2 separate regions of the Homo sapiens genome follow, and region 1 is linked to region 2. The links come from fine-mapping of genetic effects on gene expression. A gene starts in region 2. The other region holds a variant in brackets. All regions are shown on one strand. Distances are from middle to middle.

Region 1 (5,375 bases), 36 kb after region 2:
GGGAATCTGAGAAGGCTTCCTAGAGGAAGTAACATCTAAGCTGAGGCCTGAAAAGTCAGGTAAGAGTGAGATGGGAAAATAAGAAGGTACAGGGGTGTTCTAGGCAGAGCAAACAACAGGTGCTTTGGAAGCCTTAGAAAGAACAGCAAGCATGGCCCGTTCAGGGAAAGATGGAGAACAAAGCTCAAGTGTATTGATGGTGAGAGAAGAGGCTCAGGAGATGGGTGTAGCTGGGTCATGGAAAGACCTTAGCCATATTAAGGAATCAGAACTTTCTCCTGAGACCAGTGGGAGGCATACAGACATTTTAAGTGAAGAAGCAACGTGGGTAAATTAAAAAAATATATCACTTTGCTGCCGGGCGCAGTGGCTCACGCCTGTAATCCCAGCACTTTGGGAGGCTGAGGCGGGTGGATCACGAGGTCAGGAGATTGAGACCATCCTGGCTAACACGGTGAAACCCCGTCTCTACTAAAAATTCAAAAAATTAGCCGGGTGTGATGGTGGGTGCCTGTAGTTCCAGCTACTCGGGAGGCTAAGGCAGGAGAATGGCGTGAACCCGGGAAGCGGAGCTTGCAGTGAGCCGCGATGGCGCCACTGCACTCCAGCCTGGGCGACAGAGCGAGACTCCGTCTCAAAAAAAAAAAAAAAAAAAAAAAAATTAGTTTGCAACAGGATACAGAAAAATCAAGAGGGATTTTTCAACCTCTTCTTTATAACTTTCTTTTTTTTTTTCATGACTTTAAGAAAGTAATATGTATCACTGTTGTGATAAAAATAAAAACCAGTAAAGCTATTTTTGTTCTTTATATTTTAAAAACCCATTCTGACAAAAGACTTGAATAGACATCTACTGAAGAAGATATACAGATGGCAAGTAAGCATGTGAAACATCGTACATCATTAGGGAAATGCAACTTAAAACAACGAGATGCCACTATACACCTATTAGAATGGCCAAAATCTGGAACATGGACAACACCAAATGCTGGTGAGGATGTGAAGCAACAGAACTCTCACTCATTGCTGGTGGAAATGCAAAATGGTGCAGCTACTTTGGAAGACAGTTTGGCAGTTTCTTACAAAACCAGACGTACTCTTAACATACGATTCAATAATCACACTCCCTGGTGTTTACCCAAAGGAGTTGAAAACTTACATCCACACAAAACCTGCCCCCAGATGTTTATAGCAATTTTATTCATAATTACTCCAATTTGGAAGCAACCAAGATGTCCAGGTGAATGAATAAATAAACTATGATACATGCAGACAATGGAATATTATTCAACCCTAAAACAAAATGAGCTATCAAGCCACGGAAAGACATGGAGTTAAACTTAAATGCATATTACTAAAGAAAAGAAACCAATCTGAAAATTCAATTACATGTTCTGTGATTCTAACTGTATGACATTCTGGGAAAGGCAAAACTATAGAGACAGTATAAAGATCAGTGGTTGCCAGGGGTTAGGCAGATGAGCAGGCAGAGCAAAGCAGATTTTTAGGGCAGTGAAACTGTTCCGTGTGATATTGCAATGGTAGTGCTAGGGTTTGTGTGTGGTTTGTTCGGCCCCATCAAGTCTCATGTTGAAATTTGATCCCCAGTGTTGGAGGTGTGGCCTTATGGGAGGTGTTTGGGTCATGGAGGTGGATCCCTCATGAATAGCGGTAATGAGGGAGTTTTCACTCTTAGTTCCCATGAGAACGGATTTCTGCAAAGAGCCTGGCACCTTCTCTCTTTCTTGCCTCCTGTCTCACCATGTGATCTGTGTATATCAGCTCCCCTTCACCTTCTGCCATGAGTGGAAACTTCCTGAGGCCCTCATCAGAAGGAGATGTTGGTGCCATGCTTTTATTTTTATTTGTGTTTATTTATCTTTTTTGAGACAAAGGCTCGTACTGTCTCCGAGGGCTGGAGTGCCATGGTGCGATCTCAGCTCACTGCAACCTCTACCTCCTGGGCTCAAGAGATCCTCTCACCTCAGCTTCCTGAGTAGCTGGGACTACAGGCATGCACCACCACATCTAGCTATTTTTTTTTTTGTATTTTTGGTAGAGACAGAGTTTCACCACGTCGCCCAGGCTGGTCTCGAACTCCAGAGCTTGAGTGATCTGCCCACCTCAGCCTCCCAAATTGCTGGGATTACAGATGTGAGCCATGATGCCCGACTGCCATGCATTTGTGTAATACCAAGAGTGAGCCCTAATATCAACTATGGACTGGTGATGGTGCTGTGTCAATGCAGGTGCATCAACTGTAAAAAATATCCCATGCTGGTGGGGGATGTTGGTAGTGGGGGAGGCTGTGCCTGTGTGAAGACAGGGGATATATGGGAATGCTATATTTCTGCTCAATTTTGCTGTGAACCTAAAACTGCTGTAAACAATAATGCCTATTAAGAAAACAAAATAAAACAATAAAAAAAACCCCACAAGAAGAAGAAGGTAGGACAAGGGGTAGTAAGAGCCTGCAGAGGTTGTGGCAGGGGTCTAGCCCCAGGGCTGGGGCCTAAGCTGGGCAGAGGCAGTCGGGCTGGGTAGAAGGGATTCAGGAGCATTCACAGGAGTTAGGCTGCTTAGATGGTGGGAGGGCAAGGAAGAGGAGTGCGCTGAAGCTTCTTGCTTAACTAGCAATGTGGTGCCATGAAGAGAGATATGATGAACCACCTTCAGTATGATAGGCAGTACCTGTAGGCCAGAGATTGCACTAGAAGATGGAGAGGGAAGGAGGAGAGCTTATAACTGACTAAGACAAGAGAAATCACATTTTATTCTTTTATTTAAGAGAGGTCCTGTTGTTTTATCATTTTTCTGTTTTATGCATCACTTATAGGACATAATGCCATGAGTAACCCATATACAGAAAATTCACAGCCTGAACTGGCTTCGGGGAAGACCAAGGCGCATTTGGAGGAGAAGGCCAGCCCTAAAGGCTGGAAGTGACATTCCTGTTGATAAAGGGCAGAGCACGAGCCAACTGAGAGAGGAGATGCAAAGACAAAAATTTCATGCAAAGGATGGGTGTGTTCAGAGGCTGATGAGCTGCAGGTTGCAGAGAGGCCCTATCATGGCCCTCTGTTATTTGTGCTGTCTGCTCCCTTCTCTGGTGGTAGCACACCTGCCACTCCTCATCATCCTGGTATGGACGCGGTTTTTCTCTGCCCTGACCCCAGTCCGTTCTCCACCCTGCTGTGCCCCACTCTGTGCTCAAGGAGACTGACTCCTGCAGACTGAATCCCTTGGTTCCCTGGCC[A/G]GCTGGCTTCTGATTGGGCCCTGCAGGATATTGAGGGGAAGAGGAGGGAGAGGATGGGCTGTTTGTTCCCTGTTCCCTCCTTGCCTTGCAAAGGTTGTGCTGTGCCCCCAAGACCACAGCAGCCCCACCCACCTGGCCCCAGGCCTAATGGCTCCTCTAAGGGTTCTCCACCCTTGGCCCTGCAAACTTAGACATGGTCATGACTTCCCTCTATTGCTAGTCCCTGGGTGCTAGAATATTCTTTGATAGTTCCCTTAACCCTACTCACATGGCTATGAATGTTCCCTTCATTAAAGTCTCTTCAGGCAACCATTTCAGGGAGAAATTGCGTTTTTGAGAAGCATAGAGATTAACAAAGGCTGTCAATGACCATTGTAGACCAAGGTGGGAGGGCAGGGCCACTCCCTGCTGTTGGGAGGAGTGGGGGAAGGAGGGGAATCCTACCCAAAGCTGCACTCATCTGCTGGCTTGCAAGTACATTATCCAGAGCCACAGACAAAACCCGTGGGTAGAGGCAGATGCTGACTCCTTGCAGGTAGACAGCACTGGTGAAGGCTTCGAGGAGGAAGGTGGCCCTGGTGGGCCACCTTTGACCCCTTTTGGGTCACTCTGTCAGAGTGGAGCAGGGATGGGGGAGGGAGGAGGCATGGGGTGGGAGGAATGCAACACGCAGGGGTGGGACAGAGAGAGGGGTGAGGAGTCTGCGGCAGCCTTGGTGGACAATGGTGAAGACCTGACCTAGGGAAGTGGCAGAGACGAGGGAGGGCATCTGAGAACTATTCCGGAGATAGCCTCAACGTCCCGATGCTCAGTCTTATGTTGAGTTTGAGGGTGAGTGAGGCAATGACAGTTGGTGTTCTGGAGCGGGTTCCTGAGTAGATGGAGATGCTGGCCACAGTAAGGGGCAGGACTGGTCAGGGCAAGGAGCTGCTTTCTGTTGTGGACAGATTAATGTATGGGGCTGGCCACCTTTCATATGAACAGAATCATACACCGTGTGGTCCTTTGTGACATAAGTGTCCTAAGTGGCTTCTGTCACTTAGCATAATGTTCTCAAGGTTCATCCATGTTGTAGCAGGGATCACTGCTTCATTCATTTTAATTGCCAAATAATATTCCATTATATGGAAGTAGCATATTTTATTTATCCACTCATTTATTGGTGGACATTTGGGTTGCTTCTGGTTTTTGGCTGTGACAAATGATGTTGGTGTGAACATCTGTATACAAGTTTTTGTGTGGACATCCATTTTTGTTTCTCTTGGGTATATACCTACAAGTACAGTTGCTAGCCAGGAGTACGAATGGTAATTCTAGGTTTAATATTGTAAGGAACTGCCAGACTATTTTTACAAAATGCTTCTCTATTTCTAGTAACATTTTTATATTTTAAAGTCTTTTTGTTTGATATTAGCATAGCAACCCTAGCTTTCTTCTGCTTATCCCTTGTCTTTTAAAAAAGATGATTTTATCAGAAATGCATATAGCCATAAGTAATATATTACATGATTTAGTTACACATATTTGAACTTTATAAAAATAGTGTCACACTATAAATGTAGTTACTTGGACTTTTCACTCAGTATGCTATTTCTAAGACCCATCTATGTTGTTGTATATAGCTACAGTATAATTTATGTTCTCTGCTGTATAATAGTCCATGGCATAACCCTAACATAATTTATTGATTCATTCTCCTGTAAGTGGCTATTTGGCATGTTTCCAGTGTTTTGCTATGACAAATTTATTGCTGCTATAAACATTTTTATATGCCTTTCCTGATATAAGAGTTTCTTTTGTTCTCAGAGCAACTAGCAATATAACTATTAGCTAGGAACTTGTTAGAAATGCAACTTCTCAAGTCCCACCCAAGACCCACTGAGTCAGAAACTGTAAGATAGGCCCAGCAATCTGTGTTGTAATATCAGATATCAGGTGACTCTGATATCTGATAAAGTTTGACGTCCACTGCGCTAGGGTATAAAGTAGGAGTGAAATTTCTAGATTGCAGGCAATCAGATGTTTTCTGAAGTTGTTGTCCCATGTTTTCATGGAAATCCACCCGCTCAGCACTTAGTATTGTCAGACTTCTTTATTTTGCCCACTGGGTGGGTCAGTC
Region 2 (5,375 bases):
GAGAAACTTTTTATGTTCCAAATTCTGCAATATTTTATTTTTATCTGCTAAATCTAGCAACCCTAGAATTTGCATTTCTAACAGATTTTGAAGAGATGCTGATGCTGCTGGTCTAGGGACCTTACTTTGAGAACCACTGAGATATAGGATATTACGTTATCACCAAAAAGGAAAAACTGGGGGAGGAGGGAAGCTGAGTAGATCAGGTAAGAGTTCCTGAAGGAAAGGACAAGGACATGGGATGGGTCTTTAAGGGTGCCTAGAAGCTAGCCAGAAGAATACTGAGAGGAAAGCTTTGAGCAAAGGGGCAGAAATGTCAGAAAATGCCTGACGTTTTAAGGAAATTACAAGAAGCTTAGTGTTGCTGGTGCATAAAGTTTAATGCAGGTGGTGGTAGATAAAACTAAAAGGACAGAGGCCAGAAAGTACTAGGACCTTATGTACCCTGTGAAAAAGCACTTAGGGGTTTACACTGTAAAACAGTCAGCTTACCCGATGGGGAGCAATTTAAAGGATTTTAAGCAGAGCAGGGACTTGATCAGATTTGCATTTTTAGAAAGATCATTTGGGTGGAGGATCAGAAGCATGATTATGTGTTCAAGAGTATTTGAAATACGGTTATTTATGGAAACCATTTTTAATATAATTCTGCACAGACACAGACTGCTGGAGGCTACACCAGAGAAGGGAAGGAAATAGAACAATACTCAATTCATTATGAAATTTATTTAAAGTCCCTGCTAACTTGGCTCTCACTGATGCCAGAAGGACAGCATTTAATTTTTAAAGATACCAAATAAAAATGCATGGTTACAAAACTTTGTAGTTGTCTAGAATACATTATTTTGAACATTTATTCTTAAGCCTCTTTGATAATGTGTAAAATTATTTAAAATAAGACTTAAAAACAGGTATTGACATTATAATAGCGTTCATGCTAATGAAAGAATTTCTGCAAAAAAAATTAAAAAAATTAAAAAGCAGCTTCCTATTTACTGCCTATTTCATTTCTTAAGCATGTTTATGCGCCTTTCTACTTGTCAGAAATAAAACCCATTACAATGAAGATGTCCAGACTTAAGGCTCAAAGGAGGCTAAGTGTTAGTCCAGAGCTGGAAATCCTGGAGGCCAGTCCTATTTTACCAGAGTGGACCTAACGGGCTTTAATTTTCTCAACTGTGAACTGAGTTAGAATAGATCATTTGCAAAGCAGCATTCTCCTTTACCAATTTCCAACATCAGCAAAGGACATCTTCACCTATTTTCAAACAATATTTAAGGACAAAAATGTGTTGTCCAGTGTGTATATAAAAGACATTAAAATATTCTTGGCTTAATCAAGGTCACTTATCTAAGATTCTACATGTCCTGAAAGACCAAGCGTCAAAAGGAATATTCCTTTCAGTGTTCTTTTTGAGTATATTTCGCTATGGTACCAACAGCTATATTAGCAAAAGACATAAAAGTGCTGCCTTGGAATGACACTTGTTTTCACTGCACATTCATAGTACAAAACCTGTGACCCATCAGTTTTGCGGCTGAAGGGAAAAGTTAATTTGTCCATATTTCATTTTTCCTTATTTAAAATAAGGAGATAATCGATAGGAACAAAAGCTAAAATATACAGTGGCCATGAAGCAGGCACCACTTAGAAACCTCTGTATTAACGTTAGGAGCCAAGTTTTATTACCCAAAAGGGCAGGCTGGCTGAGGAGTGGAGGCTGGATGCATCGTCTCAGCAAATGACTACTGCAAAGCTGCCACGCTTGCACAAACTCAGGGATGTTTATTTATTAGCTTGTTTCCTCAAAATGAGTTTAGGTCATCAGCAGAGATTAAAGCAGGCCTCTACACCACTCTATGAAATCCTGATTCCCACGGCGCATTCTGGGACAGTGAGTGTCCACGAAGACCATACCTGTAATCGCAAAGCTTGGGTTGACAGCCACACTGCTGCTTGCAAACCATACAGTAACTGCACAGGGGCACGTTGCCCCGGATCCAGTGGTGGGGCATGGCGTCCAGGACCTTGGTGTCATTCTTGAGCATAATCTCCTTGCACTGGAAGCGCTTGTCGGCCTTCCTGAGGCAGCCCTCGTCCACGCGGAGCCCGCAGCAGTCGCAGAAGGCGCCCTGCAGAATGTGCTGCGCGCACACGCAGCAGTAGGTGGGCTGGCTGAACAGGTCCGTGTCGCGCCACCCGTGCTTGCTCTTGCGGAAGATGTCCCTGCGGTGCAGCTGCCGGCGCGACCGCTGGAGGCTACACCAGAAGGTGATGAACACCGGCAGCAGGACCGAGCACAGCGTCCACAAGATCAGGTGCCCGTCCGCAAACAGGCCCTCGGAGGGCGAGCCCGGCGCCGGCCGCCTCTCCGCTTCCATCTTCTCCAAGGACGATACCTAACCAGAAAAGAAACAGGCGGTGCACCCCGAGCTCGCCATCCCTTCCCCGCCCCCTTCCTGCCTTTCCGGGGCCAAACCGGGCGCCCTCAGTGAAGGTGGCTCCGCTCTCCCGAGGGCGGGACTGCGCCTCGTCCCCCCGTCTCCCGGGACCTGCCGCGCCGAGAAGGCGACGTCCAGCCATCACGCTCCAATCCCCACTCCCCAACCCGCCCCACCTCGGGAGCGCGTCCAGGAGCCCAAGGCGGCTGCTGCTGCCGCCGCCGCCTCACCTTGCCGCCGGTCTGACCCACGGAAGGGCGCAACATACAGGGGCAAGCTGCCCTCCACCGAAAGGCCGGGCGTTCAGGCCAGGCAACGCCGGTCGGCGCCCGTAACCGTCGGCCCAGGCCTCGCACTCCCCTCCGGGGCGCCGTCTCCTCCCGGGCCCCACCCGCTCCCACGCGCGGCCCGGCGACCCTAGCCCCTCTCGGGAGGCCTCCGGAGACCTGCGCCGCGCCGGTCCTCGAAGCCCTACCTCGCGCGGGTGGAGGCGCGGCTCCGGGCCAGCAGGCCTTGGCCGCCTCGCGCAGGAGGAGAACGACGCTGGGCCGCCAGCAGGGATGAAGCCGGGCGGGGGAAACGCTTAAGGCTCCAGCCGCACGCACGCCGATCCGGCGCGCGGGGCCGCGAGCTGGAGGCGGGGCCTGTGGCGGCGAGCCCCGTGGCTGGGCGGAGCCAGGGCTGACGGGCGGGGCGGAGGTGTGAGGTGGGAGGGGAGACGGACCGGCCTGAGGGGGCGGGGCCGTGGAGGAGGCTGGAGACGGATGGAAGAGGCAGGGCACTGCGGCTGGGGGCGGGGCCTAGGGGAAGGGGGCGGAGTAACAGTGGGGCGTTTGAGAGGATGGAGGGTTGAATGCCAAAACTTCGTAATCGTAGAAAATTCTGGAAAGCCGCCGGCGGGGCAAGGCCACGAGGATCCTCCTCGCAGCACCGCGCCGCGCGGGGCCCAGGGGCCGCGCTCACGCCCGCCGCTCGGCGCAGACACGAGTGCCCCCGACTTGAGCCGAACCTCTAGCCGATGCCGGCGCCGCCGCCGCCGGGGATGCGTAAGCCGACTGGGAAGCGAGGGGGGGAGGCGGCCTGCGCGGCACCGCCCGACCTGGCCGCGGCGGGCTGAGGTAGGTGTGGCGGCCGCAGTAACGCAAACCTGAGGGCTCCTCCGCTGCGGAGCGGCGGGCGGGCGCGGAGGCCGAGGGCGAGCGGGGCAGCCGCCCGCTCGTCGCCGCTGACCCCGAGCCCGGCCGCGGTTTCCGCCCCCTGCCGTGGCGGGCGGGCCTCCCCTGCGCTACCCCCTCGCCCGCGCCCGCCAGCGCCCGAGGCCGGGGAGAAAGGGGAGCAGCGGGAGCCGGGGACTACCGGAGATGGGAGCACGCCTCCTGCTGCTGTCGTCCAGCCCCAGGTTCCGGAGGAATGCTCGCTCCCCGCTGGAGTCCTACCAGCCCAACACGGACCTGAGCCGCGACCACGCGGGCTGCAGCCTGCAGCACATCAGCTACCCGGAGAACGCGGACGCGGAAGCACCGCTGCTCAGCACCCCCGAAGAAACACGGAATCCAGAGAGGCACAGGCACCGCCCCGGCGCGCACAGCTGCACTCAGCGGCTTCCTTCCTACTACATACATACATAGGAGTGGGAGCCGAGGACCACTTGTTGCTTGCGGACTTCCTCTAGCATAAAAGATGGAAAGAAAACACACACCGAAGCAAGGGACCAAAGGAACAGAAAAGAAACGCAGAGATCATAGGAAAACTGCAAAGAAATACTTGATAATATCTTCCAAACGATTAGAGAAGACATAACATTCATTAAGAATACACATATAGATGTATATATACGTGTATGTGTGTATGTATATATTATTATGTGTGCATATATATGCATGTGTATGTGCGTATATTTGTATTAACTGTAGAAGATAAAGCTAGACACTAGTAAAAGTGGTAAAGCAGATTTTAATAATATACTATTGTAATAGGGAAGAAGGTACCTCGTGAACGGAACTGAACTTTGTGCAGAAGTGACTAGGTGTTTAAGAGGGAGGAGGAGGGAATGTGAAGGGGATGAGCAGGAACTCAGTAGTCAGGAAAGTGAAACTTGTGAAGGGTGGGTCAGTGTAAGTAAGGTTAGGCGACAGTGCCTGTTAGATGGCTGTTATGGGAGTCAGGGTCCTATCCTCCCACAGTAACTGGGAGATAGGCCCTTTGCTTCCTGGTGATTGCATGTTGGAGGAATGGCTTTCAGGTTCTTGAGAAGGATACTCCTGATGTGTAGGAGACATTACATCCCAGAGAGACAGAGGAAGGATTCACAATTGTTTAGTTTTTTGTTGTTGTTGTTAACTCTTTAAGAAAGGGACATCAGGGGCTGCTTGTAAGGTGTTGGCAATAGCCAACAGTGAGTTCTTTTGGCAGCTTTCCCAGGAAGATACTTTAGGGGGTCTGGGGTCATCCTATGGATGCAGCTTTGAGCAGTTAAAAACTATGTGTTTAGGCCGGGCGCTGTGGCTCACGCCTGTAACCCCAACACTTTGGGAGGCCGAGGCAGGTGCATCACGGGGTCAGGAATTCAAGATCAGCCTGGTCAAGATGGTGAAACCCCGTCTCTACTAAAAATACAAAAAATTAGCTGGGCATCGTGGTGAGTGCCTGTAGTCCCAGCTACTTGGGAGGCTTGAGGCAGAGAATTGCTTAACCCAGGAGGCGGAGGTTGCAGTGAGCTGAGATCGCACCAATGTATTCCAGCCGGGGCGACAGAGCGAAACTCCGTCTCAAAAAAAAAGAAAGAAAAAGAAACTGTGTGTTTAAGCGTTTTGATATAGGGGGAAGGATGGACCCGATCCTTTTTGCTGAAGTCTGCAGATTTCATAGGCCAAGGTGGAGGCCTAGTTGAAAAGGGGGCTCAGGGAAGCCTGGCTAGAGCTTGGTCAAGGAGG

The links. PIP is the estimated chance that this variant, and not a neighbour inherited with it, causes the effect.
Region 1: its variant is the best candidate, but not a certain one, in a credible set for the expression of C17orf67 in lymphoblastoid cells (GTEx, PIP 0.53).

Annotation. Positions count from the first base shown.
Region 1 is chr17:56,795,345-56,800,719 of GRCh38, reverse strand. The region is part of intron 6 of C17orf67 (chromosome 17 open reading frame 67); the gene reads left to right. Among named protein-coding and RNA genes, the nearest start is that of C17orf67, 36 kb to the left of the region's middle. The variant A/G (reference allele first, on the strand shown) is at 3,257.
Region 2 is chr17:56,831,803-56,837,177 of GRCh38, reverse strand. It overlaps C17orf67 (chromosome 17 open reading frame 67), which reads left to right and starts at 3,258. Exons shown (of 8, transcript NM_001085430.4): 1 at 3,258-3,560; 2 at 3,836-4,280. DGKE (diacylglycerol kinase epsilon) reads right to left here and starts at 3,027. Exons shown (of 12, transcript NM_003647.3): 1 at 2,918-3,027; 2 at 1,919-2,400. The coding sequence starts at 2,382. It overlaps LOC124904036 (a long non-coding RNA gene), which reads left to right. Exons shown (of 3, transcript XR_007065857.1): 3 at 1-818. RefSeq lists enhancers at 1,574-2,171, 1,903-2,302, 2,771-3,368 and silencers at 2,693-3,762, 3,736-4,030.